Homo sapiens: one gene and its partners. The protein of the gene in region 3 purifies or fractionates together with the protein of the main gene of each other region. This does not show direct contact. Each region holds a gene or a part of one and is shown on either strand. Other genes may lie near its edges. The genes, in order: ZNF606, CDIN1 and UBN1.

Region 1 (3,654 bases), on a different chromosome or scaffold from region 3:
GAAACCTGCCTCTACTAAAAATACAAAAAAAAAAAAATTAGCTGGGCGTGGTGGCGGGCCCCTGTAATCCTAGCTACACAGGAGGCTGAGGCAGGACAATCGCTTGAACCCAGGAGGCAGAGGCTGCAGTGAGCCAAGATCGCGCCACTGCACTCCAGCCTGGGCGACAGAGCAAGAGTCTGTCTCAATAAATAAATAAATAAAATAAAATAAAAGCCGAAGAGAGAATCCTGAAAGCAGAGAGAAGAAATTCATCACGTACAAGGGATCTTCAATAAGATTAACAGCTTGTTTCTCAGAAACGACTCAGGCCAGAAAGAAAGACAAAAAAACATGACAATCAAGAATTCTATACCCAGTAAAATTATCCTTCAAAAATGAAGGAGAAATCAAGAGATTTCCAGATAAACAAAACGCCACAGTTCACTGTTAGCAAACCTGTCCGACAGGAAATGCTGGCTGGGGATAGTGACTCACGCCTGTAATCCCAGCACTTTGAGAGGCTGAGGCAGGGGCATCACTTGAGCTCAGGAGTTTAAGACCAGCCTAGGCAACACAGTGAGGCGTGGTTGTGTGCACCTATAGTCCCAGCTACTCAGGAGGCTGAGATGGGAGGATCACTTGAGCCTAGAAGGTTGAGACTCCAGTAAGCCAAGATCATGCCACTGCACTCCAGCCTGGGCAACAGAGTGTCTTTTCTATCTCAAAAAACAAAATGGAAATGCTAAAATGAGTTCCTCAGGCTGAAATGAAAGAACATTCAACAGTAACTCAAAATAAAAAACAGCAATAAAGATAGCTACATAAGTATAAAAAGACAATATAAGTAAAATTCTTGTTTCTAGCTCCTTTTTTTCAGTCTGTTAAAAGACAACTGCATAAAGCAATAATTATAAATCCATATTCATGAACACACAATGTATAAAGATGTAATTTGTGACAAAACAGCATAAAAGGAGGAGGGCAGAGCTATACACAAAGTTTTGGTATACTATTAATATTACACTAGTATTAATCCAAACTACATTGTCATAAATTAAGATGTTAATTGTAGGGCCAGGCGTGGTGGCTCACACCTATAATCTCAGCACTTTGGGAGGCCAAGGCAGGAGGATTGCTTGTGCACAGGAGTTCAAGACTAGCCTGGGCAATATAGTGAGACCTTGTCTCTACAAAAAAAAATTTTTTTTTAATTAACTGAGCATGACGGTGCATGGCTGTAGTCCCAGCTACCTAGGAGGCTGAGGTGGGAGGACTGCCTAAGCTTGCAATGCAGAGGCTGCAGTAAGTCAAGATTGTACTACTGCACTCCAGCCTGGGCAGAAGAGCAAGACCTTGTCTCAAAAGATGTTAATTGTAATCCCCAGGGCAACTACCAAGAAAATAACTCAAGATTTTATAGTAAAAGAAAAGTAGTTACCTGTGTGTATGCCTCTGTGTATCTGTGTTTTGGGGGAATAACAGTAATGTGAGTAACAGCAGGGAGTAAAAATGAGTTATTTTTGGTGGTGTTTTTCAGACAGGGTCTTGCTCTGTCACTCGGGCTGGAGTGCAGTGGTGAAATCACAGCTCACTACAGCCTCAACATCCCAGGCTCAAGCAATCCTCACCTCAGCCCCCTGAGTAGCTAGGACCACAGACATGCACCATAAAGCCCAGCTAAGTTTTTTAATAAAGGAGATTTTTTTTTTAGCTTATACATTTTAAGTAGCTTTCAGATATTTGAACATTACCTATATTTTAAAAATCTATTTTGTTTGGTACCCACAAGATCTAAGTAAGAAAGAACAAAAGCCCAAGCCGGGAACGGTGGCTCATGCCTGTAATCCCAGCACTTTGGGAGCCCGAGGTGGGCGGATCACTTGAGGTCAGGAGTTCGAGACCAGCCCAGCCAACATGGTGAAACCCCGTCTCTACTAAAAATACAAAAACTAGCCAGGCATGGTGGCGGGTGCCTGTAATCCCAGCTACTCAGGAGGCTGAGGTGGGAGAATCGCTTGAACCCGGGAGGCAGAGGTTGCAGTGAGCCGAGATCGCACCACTGCACTCCAGCCTGGGCGACAGAGCGAGACTTTATTTCAAAACAAACAAACTAAAAAGCCCAAAAAGACTATTTTTTTGAAATAAGCATCTATAGCTATAGGTTACAAGTTTGGCAATACAGGAAATAAGGAAAATATTTGAAGTAGCTACATGGATAAGAGGTAACCTTAGAGGCAACCTTAGAGGAAGGGACCGCAGAAAACAGGAGCCATCAAGAGCCGACAGCGAGGGAAAATGGCTACCTTATTAGGATGGTGATGCTTCTTTGCTCTAAATCAAAAGCAGCAAGAGAAGAAAGCTCCTTAGAGGGAATTCTAAATGCATCTGAGGAAGGTAACTCTTCATGGCCTTATCCCATTTCTCAACAAAGAGGGCTTGGGGGGAAGTTCCTTGTTCAGCCTGGGGTCTGCCCTCACCTGGACAAGTGCGTTGAGGACATGCCTGCTCCACTGACCACGGCTCTTCTCCTTGCTCCAACAGGGAGATGACCTCAGGCTTGGCAATCTGATTTCCTATGCATGGAGGAAAAGCATGGAAATCATGTCATGAGGCTTCAGGACAGCCAAAGAAAGCTTCTCTTGCCTATTCCTCCCTGTGACTTCTCAACCTGGGCAGAATATGCAAGGTCCTTCCCACTCCATGCTCTTTAAGCATTAGGAGTTTCATCCCTGAACCTCAGGGCCCAAGATCATCTCAGCTCTTCTGAGACACCACCCTCGCCCCTGCAATGAGCTTCTAAACATGGAGCAGCTGAAGGCATTACCATGGGAACAGCTTCGTTTACTTGGGCAGCACCTGCCTTACCCACAGAGAGCAGGTGACCATAGGTCTCCAGCATCACATCACGGTACAGGGTCCTCTGAACAAGGTCCAGCTGCCCCCACTCTTCTTGGGTGAAGTCCACGGCCACGTCCTTGAAGGTCACTGGTTCCTAAAAGAACACAAACGTTCCTTCTCAGCCTGTGACCACCCCCTCCAATATTTCCAGGGATGGAGTGAGGCTGACAGCCCTGGGGAGAGAAGACAGGATGTAGAGAAACTCTCCTGGTTATTCAAGAGTCTGACTAATGTGAGTCAGGTCTCATTGAGAACCACCCAAGACCTCATATTTGTTATATACTCTTAGGGAATTAGATACCTGGGTCCACAATAACCACAGCAAAGCTGAGCAGGTCTCTTCGAAGACTCTTGCCAAATTCCAGCACACTGGCTATGTCCCCCACCTTGGCAACACCCCTCTTCTGGAAAGGCAGTCATATAAAAAGGCCTGGACCAGTGCAGCAACAGGCTATGAGCACTGGCTACAAGCGAGACCTTGAGGATGGAGTCTTTGCTCCGACACCCAGATAAAGGACCTGAAAGGGTGATCTGTACATTCACAAGTTGTCTTTCCAGCCATGGTGGGGAGGTTTCCATTCTCAGTTCATCTCTGTCCCAAGGACTGAAGCTAAGGGTGAGCAGGATGCCCCAGAGCAGCCCAGGCCAAGGAGAATCGGTTACAGCTGCCATTAAAAGCACATTAGTTACAAGCAATCTAAACTGATTTTTTTTTTTAATGAAAGCAAGAAAACTAACTGGAAAACGAGAAGGAAAAAGGAAAGGTAATCTAAG
Region 2 (3,754 bases), on a different chromosome or scaffold from region 3:
AATCCCAGTACTTTGGGAGGTAGAGGCTGGAGCATCACTTCCGGTCAGGAGTTTGAGACTAGCCTGGTCAATAAAGCGAGACTTCATCTCTAGAGAAAAATTTTAAAATTAGCCAGGTGTAGTGGCATGTGCCTGTAGTCCCAACTACTCGGGAGGCTGAGGTGGGAAGATCGCTGGAGCCCAGGAGTTCGAGGGTGCAGTGAGCCACGATGGAGCCACTGCACTCCAGCCTGGGCGACAGAGTAAGACTCCATCTCTACATCAAACATACACAAATAAAACACCTCCATGAATTAAATCAGTTTTACAGACAAAAGAAATGAGGCTTCGATGGATTAAGGAATTTATTCAAGGAGGTATATCTAAAACTTCCAACCCAGGCATTATTCCAGATGAAAAATTTTAAACCACTTACAGGTTCTCTAAAGTCTAAGCACCTTTGCTTTAGTTTGCTTAAATTGTTGAAATCAGAAGAGAAACACAACACATGACCTTCTAAGAACCAAACAGATTTTAGAAAAGAGATTAAATGAGGGACTGATATCCCAACAAATTGCTTTAGGAGAACTGAGATCCATTCACAATACATATAGAAAATAAAAAAAGATTGGCTCATTACTCCAAACATTTATTGAGCGCCTACTATTTTCTGAGAACTGGGGTTACAATAAGATGCGATTTTAGACCTTGAGCAGCTAACTGCAAGGAGTGAAAGTGACTTTTTTTTTTTTTTTTGAGACGGAGTCTCGCTGTCGCCCAGGCTGGAGTGCAGTGGCGCGATCTTGGCTCACTGCAAGCTCTGCCTCTCGGGTTCACGCCATTCTCCTGCCTCAGCCTCCTGAGTAGCTGGGACTACAGGCGCCCGCCACCACGCCCGGCTAATTTTTTGTATTTTTAGTAGAGACGGGGTTTCACCGTGTTAGCCAGGATGGTCTCGATCTCCTGACCTCGTGATCCGCCCGCCTCGGCCTCCGAAAGTGCTGGGATTACAGGCGTCAGCCACCGCGCCCGGCCAAAAGTGACATTCTTTACTGCCGGCTGTTTGATGACGTCGGATTTGTTTCAAGTCTGTTTCTCAACAAGGACAAAACTGCCTTCCACGCGATGTACAGAAGTTGTAGGGCTTCCTCAACACAAGCCAAATTATGTTTACAGCGACCCTAGTGAGTTTTCCTGCTCGGACCATGACAGACTTGGTAGAGTGAAGACATGGTTTCTCGGCAGGCCAGTCCACGCTCCGAGGAGCGCTCAAACTGGCGCGTTAGGAAGTGTATTCAAATCGCGCGCTCTGGCAGGGGCTTTCGGGGGCTCACGCTGAAGGATCGCGGGGCACTCGTGAGACCTGCCGCCTGGTCTGTGCGTCAGGCCGCCCTGGCTTCTAGTAATTGGGAGAGTACAAAGCATCCCTTGTTGACCCTTTGATCCTAGGTGGGCGATGCCCTGGATTCCTACCTGCCTACTGAAACTCTGGCGCGGCGCCTTTCCAAGGGCGGCCGCTACTTCCTGGTTGGTTTGCCCTTAACTGACATGGCGGCTAGTTGCCTTCGGCGCACCACTGCGGCTGCTCAGTAAGCCAAGCTAGGGCACTCTGGTGTACAGCCAGTCCCCGCCGCGGAGGTGCCGGTGGAGCCTGGGACCGGGCGAGTCTCCGCCCCGCTTTTGCAGCTAGGGGTGTGTTTCAGGGGGGATTGGGGCAAGCCAAGCAGGCGAGGACCCGGGCCTGTGCCGCTTTGCCTACCCCTCATCCCTCGGCACCAAGGCTACTTGAGCCCCAGGGTGTTTTTTCCTTGTTCCCGCCACCTCCTGGTCCCTGGCCCAACATGATACTGACCAAAGCTCAGTACGACGAGATAGCCCAGTGCCTAGTGTCTGTGCCGCCTACCAGGCAGAGCCTGAGGAAGCTGAAGCAGAGGTTTCCCAGGTAAGTGTCCATCTCTCCCCTCTCACAGCCCTTTGCCTGCAGCAGCAGTGCCTGGGCCGCCCAGGCAGCGCTTAGGAACCACGTGTCACACATGAGTGGGGAGGAACACCAGTGTCAGGCGTTAGGAGGTCGAGGTTGGCGAAAAAAGGTTTATTCTTTCACTCGCCTTCCACACAAAACTCTTAACGGTGAGTTCATGGCAGCCTTCCAAGGCCTTGCAATTAAATTCAAGTCAACAGATATTTATGGAAAACGTGGTACGTGCTAGGTGATGGGTGAACATAGTAGGTGCTTCATAAATGACCAGAGGTTAATTGACAGATAGTAGGAATGAATGATGGGTGGGAATATGAATTGTAGATTCGAAAGGAGCAAATGGAGGACCCTTTTCAATTGGCCGTTGGAAACAAACAAGGGAGCATAGAGGTAAAGCGGCTTCATACTGTTTGACTGTGGCTTGTACTGTTAACTGTGGAATTAAGTGACCTCAAGGGTTCTCAATCCAATCAGAGAGCAGGGTACCCAGGGATTCCACTCTTGGGTCATTGGCCATTTGAACAACCAGATCTAAAGTTTCTCCATATATGTTATGCATACACACATTCCGGGTGTATTTCATACTTCCTCCCCCAAACACTTCTTTTTTCAGCGATTTTAGAATTATCCAACTTTCTAAGAAAGGACTTTGGGAATTATGTAGATTTCTCATTTTAATGAAGTGGAAACTGAGACCCCAACATTACATGAGGAACCAGTTGAGGACAACCAGGTCACTGTATTTATGTTGTGTTAAAAGCAGAGAATGTTTGTTTACTTTTTTCCTAATGAAAAACCAAATCCAAACCTGTACCATTTTGTTTTGTGGCACTGAGCATGGTTATTCCTAATGGAGAGCTTCCCCATCCTTGACGTATTCAGTCCCTGAACAAACACGACAGAAGTAATTTCTTGAGAAAAGAAAGGTAATTGGATAATAGGTATCAAAGTACAAATTGAAGCATAAGTTTAAGTTCTGTTATGACTTTGCTTTTTGAAGGACTTGGTTTTCCTAGTCTGTAAAATGAAGGAGTCTCTTTTCAATATTATCCAGATTTGATTTAGGGCAATATTTATCCCTTTATAGCCTTTAGTATTTTATCAGACTTGCTAAGAAGGAACAAAATTGACACATAATTTAATTTTCTGTCATTAACTCTTGCCAGTTCTGCACATGAACAGTGAAATGGGTGAAGACTGGTCAGCCAAGGGAATAGGTAGATTTTTCTGGGCAGTTTTAAGAAAGAGCATACATTTTGATATTCTCCTCTCACTATGTATGCAATCACTTGTAATTTTGCTTTTTTTTCTCTTCCTCTCCCTCTTTTTCTCTTTTTCGTTCTTTTCTCTAGCAAATACCTTGTCTTCTCTATAATAAGTAAGTGTCTGTTACTTTAATCAACACTTACAAAAGCCTCCCTTCTGTCTGGTGTATTCTCTTATGCTCTTTTCTTTCTTATTCATGATATACTCAAATCTTTTTCACTTCTCCCAAATGCCATACAGGGAATAAATAACAACTCTCCTTCCACAGGAAACTTTATTTAGAGAGAGCTGAACTACTAATCCGCAAAAGAAGGGATTAAAGAGCTATTTAGGGCTGGGTGTGGTGGCTCACGCCTGTAATCCCAGCGCTTTGGGAGGCCGAGATGGGAGGATCACTTGAGGCCAGGAGTTCCAGATCAGACTGGGCAACGTAGCAAAACCCCGTCTCTAATAAAAATCCAAAAAATTAGCTGGGTGTGGTGGCATGTGCCTTTAGACCCAGCTACTCAGCTACTCCTGAGGCTGAGGTGG
Region 3 (2,364 bases):
CGAACTGGTGCCAGGTGGAAGTAAGGACCCTCTGTGCTGCACGTCTCCCAAGTTACATCTGCCTCATGATGTGCTGTGGCTCCCTGGCACCATGGCGCATTATAGTAAACACCAGAGGCCATATGGGGCAAGACTAAATCTGTAAATCTCCACAATGGAAACTGTGCTTCTTTGAGGGGCTAAGCCTATAGCACTAGTGACTCCTCCTTTCCTTGGGAGGAGAAGTAAAGTGCAGTGACTTCTCTACAGACTAGAGGCTGCAGAGCCACCTTGGTGAGAGCAGGGGTCTTTCCAAAGTCAGGCTGCCCTGCCTTTGCTTACTCTCAGGAATGTTACTCTCAGAAAAGCAAAGTAATTGAGGCCGGACGCGGTGGCTATCACCTGTAATCCCAGCACTTTGGGAGGCCAAGGCAGGAGGATTGCCTGAGTCCAGGAGTTCAAGACCAGCCTGGGCAACATGGCAAGACCCTATCTCTACATTTAAAGAAAAAAATTAGTCAGGTGTGGTGGCATGTGCCTGTAGTCCCAGCTCTTTAGGAAGCTGAGGCAGAAGGATCACTTGAGCCGAGGAGGTCGAGGCTGCAGCGAGCCGTGGTCATGCTACTGCACTCCAGCCTGGGCAAGAGTGAGACCCTGTCTCAAAAGATTGCTTTCTGCTATATTTTCATTTTTCCTCTGGGTATGAAAAGGCTATCAGAATAGGAAGAATAAGTGCTAGTGTTCTATACCACTGTAGGGTGACTGTAGTTAACAGTAGTATGTAGTTTCAGTTAGGAGGAGGATATTGAACGTCGCCAGCAAAAGGAGATGAAAAACGTTTGAGATGATGGATATGCTAATAACTCTAACGTGACACTACACATTTTAGATGTTGAAACATCACTATGTACCCCATAAAATATGTGTCATTATTATGAGTCAGTTTTTAAAACTGTTTAAGGCTCTCAGAGGCTGGATGTGGTGGCATTGAGAGGCAGGAGGATTGCTTGAACCCAGGAATCAGAGGGTATAGTGTGCTGTGATCATGCTTGTGAATAGCTGCTGTACTCCAGCCTGGGCAACATAGTGAGACCTCATCTCTAAAAAAATTTTTTTTAATCAGTTTAAAAGTTCGAGGAAAAAGAAAATCAATCAGAAAAGCAACTATACCAAAACAGGGTTATCCAAGTGAGCTTCTCTCACTTCCTTAGATGGACTTCAGCTTATAGGATGACACGAGATGCGAGTAAGAAGCTATTTGCGCATTTCAGCTGCGTGACTTGTGTCTGCGTTGCTTTCCTTTCTTTCTTCTGTGGACTGAGAATGCTAGTGCCTTTGAATTTGTCTTTACAGGACCTGAGGGTCTTTTGATGGTAAGAGAATGAATGATCATTGCTGCCTTGAGTTCTGTGTGATCGTCAGGCCTCGCCTCAGGATGGCAATTGTAGCCTGAGATGACGTAGCCCAAGTTGCACAGCAGAGTTGCTGTTCTGGAAACACTGTGCTGAGTGACCACCGACCTTCACAGTGCTAGTGTGCTTGCAGGCTGTGGCCAGGAGTAGTGTACACGAATAACTGCTGGCTGGTGTCTCATGGCTTGTTTGAGCTCTAGAACACTCAGCATTTGGGGACTTTTGCTATTTAGGTGTCTCCCTTGAAGTTTGGTTACTACTGCCTTAAGGAAATCAGAGAGCATGAAAAACTTGCGTTCTAATTTTTCTTACTCTTTTCCAGGTGCTTCTCAGCTTCACGGGAAAGGGCCTGCTGTACCACGGAAATTGTGACCGCTTCAGAGGCAAGGCTTGCCACTTGGGTCTGGGTGGAATCAGAACGTGCAGGTCTCCCAGGATGTACACTCACTGCGCCCTTTCTGCTGCTTGGTGTTCTTCTGGAGGAGCGTGAGTTCTCAGCGGAGCGCTTCTCGGCACTTCTGATGTGCCTCCCATGGAGGGAGCCGGGCCCTTGCTGCTCAGGAGGTGCAGACTGCCCCGTGCTCTGGGCCTTGCAGCTCTGTCGCTAGACGGTTGTTAGAGGGGCAGCTCTAGGCTGGGGCTTGCGCTGGGCCGTGGTGGGAGGCACAGTGTTTACAGGCTCTGGTGGCAGAGCAGTTGGCACACCTGTGGGTGAATCTGCCTGATCCCCTGGCATTTGGTCAGAGTACCTCAGAGCACCCCACTGCTCAGGGGCTCCTTCTGGCTGCAGTAAGCTCCCTGGATGGTCACAGTGCCGCCCCATCCCCAGGCTGTGTGCTCAAAGCGGACAAAACTCAGGCCAGAGCCACAGCTGGGAGACCTGCACTGTCCCTGCGAAATACTAAGAACACCTAGGGTGTGCTCACTGTGGGGGCCAGTTTCTCCTCGGAACATGACAATGAAGCTCTTTTAG

The links.
Region 1: the proteins of UBN1 (region 3) and ZNF606 fractionate together in Homo sapiens (co-fractionation; one large-scale study listed by BioGRID). This does not show direct contact.
Region 2: the proteins of UBN1 (region 3) and CDIN1 purify together in Homo sapiens (affinity purification with mass spectrometry, with the first as the bait; one large-scale study listed by BioGRID). This does not show direct contact.

What each region holds. Positions count from the first base shown.
Region 1 is NC_000019.10:57,985,748-57,989,401, forward strand, and holds part of ZNF606 (zinc finger protein 606), read right to left. Parts: intron 2,975-3,654; coding exon 2,848-2,974; exon of another isoform or gene 2,843-2,847; intron 2,556-2,842; coding exon 2,460-2,555; intron 1-2,459. UniProt on the Homo sapiens protein: May act as a transcriptional repressor.
Region 2 is NC_000015.10:36,578,041-36,581,794, forward strand, and holds the start of CDIN1 (CDAN1-interacting nuclease 1), read left to right. Parts: upstream 1-1,585; 5' UTR 1,586-1,820; coding exon 1,821-1,921; intron 1,922-3,754. UniProt on the Homo sapiens protein: Plays a role in erythroid cell differentiation.
Region 3 is NC_000016.10:4,878,370-4,880,733, forward strand, and holds part of UBN1 (ubinuclein-1), read left to right. Parts: intron 1-1,713; coding exon 1,714-1,763; coding exon of another isoform or gene 1,764-1,881; 3' UTR 1,882-2,364. UniProt on the Homo sapiens protein: Acts as a novel regulator of senescence. Involved in the formation of senescence-associated heterochromatin foci (SAHF), which represses expression of proliferation-promoting genes. Binds to proliferation-promoting genes.